Linked DNA regions of Homo sapiens. The protein of the gene in region 1 interacts with the protein of each later gene in a biochemical or structural test. Each region holds a gene or a part of one and is shown on either strand. Other genes may lie near its edges. The genes, in order: PCP4 and DAPK1.

Region 1 (3,823 bases):
GCTTGTATATTGTTTATGCCTCACAAAGAGCTCTGAATTTATGCTTCAGAATCTCACTGAATTTACTGCTCATTCCATTTCTGGAAGGGAAACACTTGGCCCATATTTATGACATTGCCAGTAGAAAAATCAATCACCCACTAAATGCCATTATTTTATATTTTACTCTTAACCTGCCATTTTATAAATGAAAGGAAGACAAATTAGACTCATAAAGCAGGAAGGTAATCATCCACAAATTGAACATTTAAGGGCAAGGAAGCAAAAGCTGTGAACTGTTCCAACCATTCAAATAAGGCAATTTTCCTCACAAAGGAGCTAGAATAGAGAGCAGGGGAGTCCCTCTCTTCAAGGTTTCTGCCCTCCATTTTAGGACAGTCTTGGACTTGGATGAGACTAAAACGTCTCCAGCCATACACGAGTCAGACCTCTTCCTCGTAGTTCAAAAGACAACTTTTGAATGTTAAATATTATTTACGACGGTTTGATAGCAAAATGGGATCCAGATTGGCTTGAGATCACGCTATTCCTGGTATAACAATCCAAGTCTGTGGTATAGTGGCATGACAAAAGACACAGTCATCTGTTCCCGTAGCACCACATCTGTGCTTTGGTCAATAATCGAATGAAGTAATGGTTATTTTAATTTTATATGACCTCTGAGAAAAGGACTCCAGAAGTTAACAAGACCCATTAACATGTGTCTTAATCAAATAAGAGTAAAAATATAACAAGGAAACACAGAAACACAAGAGGGAGAAATAATATAATTTCTTCCTTTTTTTTCAAGATCTTTTTTTTTTTTCTAAAAAACAATACAAGCATCTGTTCATCAGGTGGTTAAGTTCTAGTATTTTAAAAAAAAACCTAGTTAAAAGGTTACACCTGCTTTAAAATTTATGATTCTTATGTACAGTAGCTCCCCCTTATCTTCAGATGCCCGGTGAATGGCTGAAAGTGTGGGTGGTACCGAATCCTACACATGCTATGCTTTTTCCATCCGATAATACCTGAAAGTGCTGCTAAGTGGCTACGGGCAGGTAGTGTAGACAGTGTGGATACGCTGGGCAGATGAATGATTCATGTTCTTAGACAGCAAGCGGTTTCATAACGCTACTCAGTAGAGTGTGCAATTTGCAACTTATGAATTGTTTATTTCTGGGATTTTCCATTGAATATTTTTGGACTGTGGTTAGCAGCAGGTAACTCAAACCTCAGAAAGTGAAACCAAGGAAGGTTAAGGGGGAACTACTGTGTGCAATTTCTTTATTAAATAATAGCCACTGTTTCGTTAGGAGTTGTTAGAGAAATATCACTTTTTTTTTTCTTGTACCCAGCAAAATGACTAATTGTATTTAGGGTTTTCTTTTTCAAATTGTAAATTTTCTCACAGTTTTTTTTTTGTTATGCAGAGAAATCTCTGATGCAATGAATGGGTCAAATTTTGAGCTGAGTGTGGCTGTGTGACAGCATCCTGGGTGCTGGTCTCCTCATCTCTGAGGGGTGACAGCATACACACAGACACTGGTGCTGCCACAAGTCTGCCCATGTCCAAGACGGGCGATGGTGTGGAGCCTTCCTTTACAGATCATAACTCTGCATCTTCCAGAGAGTTTTAGGTGGAAATAGCAACAAGCAAAACTTCAAACCATTATGCCATAGTGAGATCTTCTCCTTAAAACAATAAGGGTGACTTGACGTGATTTTATCCTCTTGCCTTCTATGACTTTCCACAATTGTGGTTGCTCTAACAACAACTGTCTGTTTTAGCATATCAATGTTTTGGGAACTATCTTTTCAATCTTCCTGCAGATCCATAACAGAACTATGGAATAGTGTCCACAATGACTAAGGATATCAATACTCCCAAGTTTTTGATAGTGTACCTTAATAGGGAAAAAATTTGACCATGTATACACAACAAATTTTTATTTATTTTACAATTATGTATACATGCGAATATGCCAATATAGTAAGAGTTAATCATTAAAGGAAGGGTAAGGAAATCTGTAATTCCAATAGACTTTTTGGTAACTGTACTTCTTTTTGAGTCTAATTTGATGGCTGAGGTTTTTAAGCTTGTATTGGTGCCCATGAAGACATCCTAAGAAAAGAAGGTTTAGTTAGTGCTTCTATCGTTTCCTTGGTGTTTGTGCTGATGGTGTTAGTATTATTTTCAGTCTATGATTTAATGCAGAATTTTTCAATTAAATCTGAATATATATTTAATTGAAATATATATTAAATATATAGTAAATAATATATATATGATTTACTATTTTAACCACTTTTAAGTGTACAGTTCAGCGGTATTAATTACATTTACACTGTCGTGAAACGGGTCCACAGAACTTGTTCATCTTTCAAAGCCAAGACTCTGCACCCATTCAACAACCACTCTCCATTACCCCGCCCCTATCCTCTGGCAAACCCATTCTATTTCTTACCTCTATCAGTTTGACTACTTTTGGTACCTCCTGTGCGTGGAATCATACAGTATTTGTCTTTTTGTGACTGGCTTATTTTACTTAGCATAATGTCTTCAAGGTTCATCTATGTTGTGGCCTGTGACTATATAGGACATTTTAAAAGCCACTTACCTACTGTGGGAAGATTAGTTTAGTTAAAGGTAGATTGTATAATCTGTAAATCCTCTTAATGGAACATAAGGAACTGCAAGGTATCACATGATGATATTCTGAGAGCAAGTCAACAGGCAGTGTGTCTGGGACAATCTCCCATTGTGGGACTCCTACTCTTTCCTACCCACCAAGTGATGATGTCATTATCAATCCAGATATTAGCTATGAATGAAACCTAATTTTTAAATTGATCTTAGATCCTACACAAATATAAATAGAAATTCTAAAGTCTTCTTTACCATGAGTGTTTGTGGCAGTGAAGCACCTTACAACCCCAGAGGTGCCGTTGACACTGTGGTCTGTGCCAACAGCACTGCCTGGAGTTGTGCTGTGAACAACCTATGCCACTGAACATGGTGGCTCTGCCCTTCCTTGAGTTGATGTCAGCCTGCTTAAGGACGGTTGACCTTGAGAAAGGCTGTCGTTTTTATAGTTCCACTTAGAATTCAGGGAATCAGAGAAGGGCATCGTTGTCATTTCATTCAAAGTGGTCATTTTAAAATAGGGGACTGAGTGTCCAACGATGAATCTTGTGCAGAATCACAGAGCTTCTTCAGAGAAAACCTAAGTTTCCTTTCCACATTTTCCATGCTATTACATTTCTCATTTTCTGGATACAACCTAATTTCTTTTAAACCTGTCCAAATTCCACTTAGGGTTTGCACAAGTAATTTATTAAATTAAAATTGTCCTGAATATTTTTATTAGCCTTGAGTAAAAAAAGAACAGCCACAGAAATCTTGACAAAGCCATTGTTTTGTTCATCAGGTCTTCCACTCTATTTCTAGGGATTCCAGCTTCCACCCTGACACCCCCAGCCTCCCATCCCGTCACACACAGAGAAGCTGAGAAATGTTAATAATGCTTCCCTGTGGAATGTTTCATTAAGACCCTTGTTGGGCATGGTGGCTCACTCCTGTAATCCCAGCACTTTGGGAGACCCAGGTGGGAGGATTGGTTAAGCCCAGGAGTTAGAGACCAGCCTGGGCAACATGGCGAAACCCCGTCTCTACCAAAAATTAAAAAAAAAAAAAAAATTAGCCGGGTGTGGTGGTGCATTCCTGTAGTCCCAGCTACTCAGGAGGCTGAGATGGGTGGATGGTTTGAGCCTGGGAGGTGGAGGTTGCAGTGAGCCATGATCATGCCACTGCACTCCAGCCTGGACAACAGAGCCAGATCCT
Region 2 (3,823 bases), on another chromosome or scaffold:
AAAAATAAAATAAATAAATAAAATATTGTTAAAGAAACCAATAAATCGGTAAGAATTTCATAAAATTGAAGTGGTCCACCTTGCCCATAATAACCCTTCAGCTCCCATCATCTCCTTGTTTCTCTATTCTTCCTTTCTTTTCCCAGGGCACTAGGATAAAGACATGTCCAGGCAGACACCTCTTACTGGGTCCTACTATGAAGCAGTTCCCTGAAACCAGAGGCAAACCAGGAAGGAAGTACAAAGGGGTCCAGGCTCTTTCCATGGTGTACTTACCGAAACAATCTGGCTTCGTATTTCTTGCAGATGATTTCGAAGTACCTTCATGTCCTTTGACCCAGAAGCCCCAGCATCCAGAACAAACAGCTTATTTGAAATGTGAAGATCATTTCCAAACCTAAGGGAAGAGCAGCAGCCTCCTCAGCAGTGAGTCAATGTCCCCAGGCCTTTTAATGGAGGGGCCAGGCTCCTACTGGCTCAAGAGGCTGGTAGGAGGGAAGGAAAGTTCTGGTGTCCTTGCAAAGGCCCCTCCCCATCCCTGCTGTTGGTGGGCTCTGCCTCATCACAGTGGGTGCAGAGACTTGGGGAAACTGGCATATAGTCTGAGTCATAGGAGCGGGACCTTCAGGTTTGCATGAAGCAGCAGGAGCACAGCATGGAAAGATGTCAGCTTCTCCCGAGGCAGGAAAGGTGAGGCCTAATGCTCGCACCTTACAAGTGAGGACAAGAGATACTGTGGAAAGTGGAGGGACTAAGAATAGAGGTGTGAATGCAAAAGCTACATCACTGACCTAAAAATATTAATAGAAGCCCCATTTTTATATCTGGCAACAGATATAGTGTCTCAAGACAATAGATAAATGTCTCAAGTTGATAATGCAAGATCAGAGATACTAGCATATTATAGAAAGCTGCAGGTTCAAACTGTTTTGATAGACTCTGAGTAAAAACATATATTTTACATCATAATCCTGTACATACCCATACTCATCAGTGAAACAAACGTTTTACAAAATAATACTTGACATCTGATCTATCCTATCCTGTCCTGTCCTTTCCTGTCCTATCCTATCCCATTCCATTCCATCCCATTTTAAAAAGAATTGGCCACGACTTCCTAAATGAATTTTAAGACTCACTAGTAGGTTGCAACTTATATTGTAAGACATACTGATTAGTGTTTCTGAACACTGAATACTGAGTACTGAAATCTAAACAGCTAAAAGAAGTCACCTCCGGGCAGTGTTGCTGGGAGGTAGAAAGAAGGGGGTTGCTTTCATCACGTGCTCTTCATTTGTATTTGATTTACTATGTGGATTCATTGTTTTAATAAAAATGAAAAATAAAGGTTGTGCATCCCTAATCCAGAAATCTGAAATGTTCCAAAATCCAAAAACCTTTTGGGCAAAGACAAGACATGCAAAGGAAATGGTTATTAGAGCATTTCAGATTTAGAATTTTTGAACTAGGATGTTCAACTGCTATGTATATGTACATATATTAAAATCCAAACAAATAAGAAATCAGAAACACTTCTAAAGCCGATCATTTCCAATAAGGGATACAAGACCTGTACAAGAAAAGAGTTGACCAAGAAAGAAAGACCTTTAAAACCTTTCTCTGGTTCATGAGACTTCCTTTGTACTTTTCACACCTCTGCTTCAGTTCTCAGGGAGAGGAGGCTACCCGTGAGCTGGAGACTAAGTGGCTGCCCCTCACCTGTTCCTAATCTCTTTCAGCAACGATGTGTCTTTGTCATATCCAAACTCGCCTCCAGCCGGTCGAGGAACATTCATGATGTCAGCGTGGGTGGCCACCAGGACAACTTGGAGTGGGTTCTTCAGCTTGCCACCGAAGGCTGGGGGCAGAGAGGGAACTGCTTCAGGGGGTGGGTCCTCCTACCTGGCTGCCTCTCCTGCCCAGGTGAGGGCGGTGTGTTGGCCTCATGCCCAGGCCGACTCTCCAGGTACAAGTGCAACATGCCACAGAGATGAAGGCCCCACGCCTGCTGTGCACTGTGACCCTAGAAGGCCCCAGCATGGCCAACGACAGGATAAGCCTATCTCCTAGGCCACAAGGAAAATTGCTCAAAGTGGACCAGAATGACTAAAGGCAGTTTCTCAAGTCTCCAAATAGCCCCTACTTACAAGGAGAGGGAAAATTTAACCTGTGACAAAAGGGATGCCGCTTACAAGACCAAAGAGAGACGCCTGAGTGCAGCAACACCACAGAGATGGGTCAGAGGTAAATGACCTGCAAGTCACACAAAGAGCCTCCCACTTCGGGGAGTGTTTAAAACAAAGGAAAAAAAGGACAAAGAAAGAGGCAAAACTGGCAGTACCCAGAGGGGCATTAAGCCCAACTCCTTGTATTATATGCTTTTCCGGAAAGAAAAAAAATTGACTGCTGAGTATTGCATTTCACCAGGGAAGGCTGCTTCTCTTGTTGTGGGCAAAGACCAAAGGAAGTTTATTTCATGTTATCCTCTCCTCTAGGAATAAAGTTAAGATAACACATTCAGTCAACATGCTCCCTTTCTTCATTTCTCTCTCTTTTTTTTTGAGACAGGGTCTCACTGTGTCACCCAGGCTAAGTGCAGTGGCACGATCTTGGCTCACTGCAGCCACAGCCTCCCAGGTTCAAGCAATCCTCCTGCCTCAGCCCCTGAAGTAGCTGGGACTACAGGCACATGCCACCACACCTGGCTAAGTTTTTGTATGTTTTGTAGAGATGAGGTTTTGCCATGTGGGCCAGGCTGGTCTTGAACTCCTGAGCTCAAGGCATCTGCCCACCTTGGCTTCCCACAGTGCTAGGATTACAGCCGTGAACCACTGCACCCGGCCTCTTTCTTTGTTTCTTAGTGGAATTACAGGATGAAGAACTGCTCATTCTGCTGACTAATTCTGTACCCTTTAGGTAAAGGTGCAGTAGCTATCCAAGCAGGGATTCCATTTTGCACCCAACATACAATGACCATGGCTCTCAAGTGTAGAAAAAAAGTGAGAAATGCCTCTCAAAGGATTGTTCAAAGTGGGCCTTTGAGGCAGGAATATGCAATCATGAAACAAAAACAGCCTGCAGAATACCACGAACACTTGAGCCTCATGAAGCTTCTCAGAGTGGAAGTCTCCCAGCAGGAAGGAGAAAGGAAGTTGGCTCAGCTGTTAGCCACAAACGGTGGGATCTGCTCATGGCCTGGTGCAAGGCCAGCAGCAGCAGTGGCAGGAGCAGGGCAGAAGCCTGGAAGGAGGAGGCGATTCCTGGCCAACCACAGGTAGGACATCACTGGCCTGCAGGGACTTAGCTCACCTATGGGTTCTTCAACTGGGACAAGGGACTTCAGGAAACTGAGCCAGAAAATCACTTGGTTCAGCTGGATCTCATAGGGCTCTTCTAGACTAAAGACAACAACATGGATTGACGTGGGATCATTTGCAGCAAAATAGTCATAACAGCAGAAATACACAGGATTTCCAGAGAACTCCCACACGCTGAAATCGCCAACTCCTACAGAAAAAGAAAAATGATAACAATCGTGAAACACCACTAACCAAATTTCAATCATAAATTCTCTTAGCGTTCCACGGATTCGAAGTAGGCATAGTGATACTTATGGCATTCTTCTGTATGTGTATACATCTTGTTATGACTTGGGTATGGTTTGTTCCCCACTAAAACTCATATTGAAATCACTCAGTGAGGTGATGTGGGAGGTGAGGCCTGGTGGGAGGTGTTTGGGTCCTAAGTGCAAATCCCTCCCAAATGGCTTGGTGCTGGTGGGAAGGAGTGAGTGAGTGAGTGAGTGTGTTCTTGCTCTTGTGAG

The links.
Region 2: the proteins of PCP4 (region 1) and DAPK1 form a complex in vitro, tested with the Homo sapiens proteins (one large-scale study listed by BioGRID and IntAct).

The regions. Positions count from the first base shown.
Region 1 is NC_000021.9:39,873,869-39,877,691, forward strand, and holds part of PCP4 (calmodulin regulator protein PCP4), read left to right. Parts: intron 1-3,823. UniProt on the Homo sapiens protein: Functions as a modulator of calcium-binding by calmodulin. Thereby, regulates calmodulin activity and the different processes it controls.
Region 2 is NC_000009.12:87,696,691-87,700,513, reverse strand, and holds part of DAPK1 (death-associated protein kinase 1), read right to left. Parts: intron 3,508-3,823; coding exon 3,310-3,507; intron 1,859-3,309; coding exon 1,720-1,858; intron 398-1,719; coding exon 277-397; intron 1-276. UniProt on the Homo sapiens protein: Calcium/calmodulin-dependent serine/threonine kinase involved in multiple cellular signaling pathways that trigger cell survival, apoptosis, and autophagy.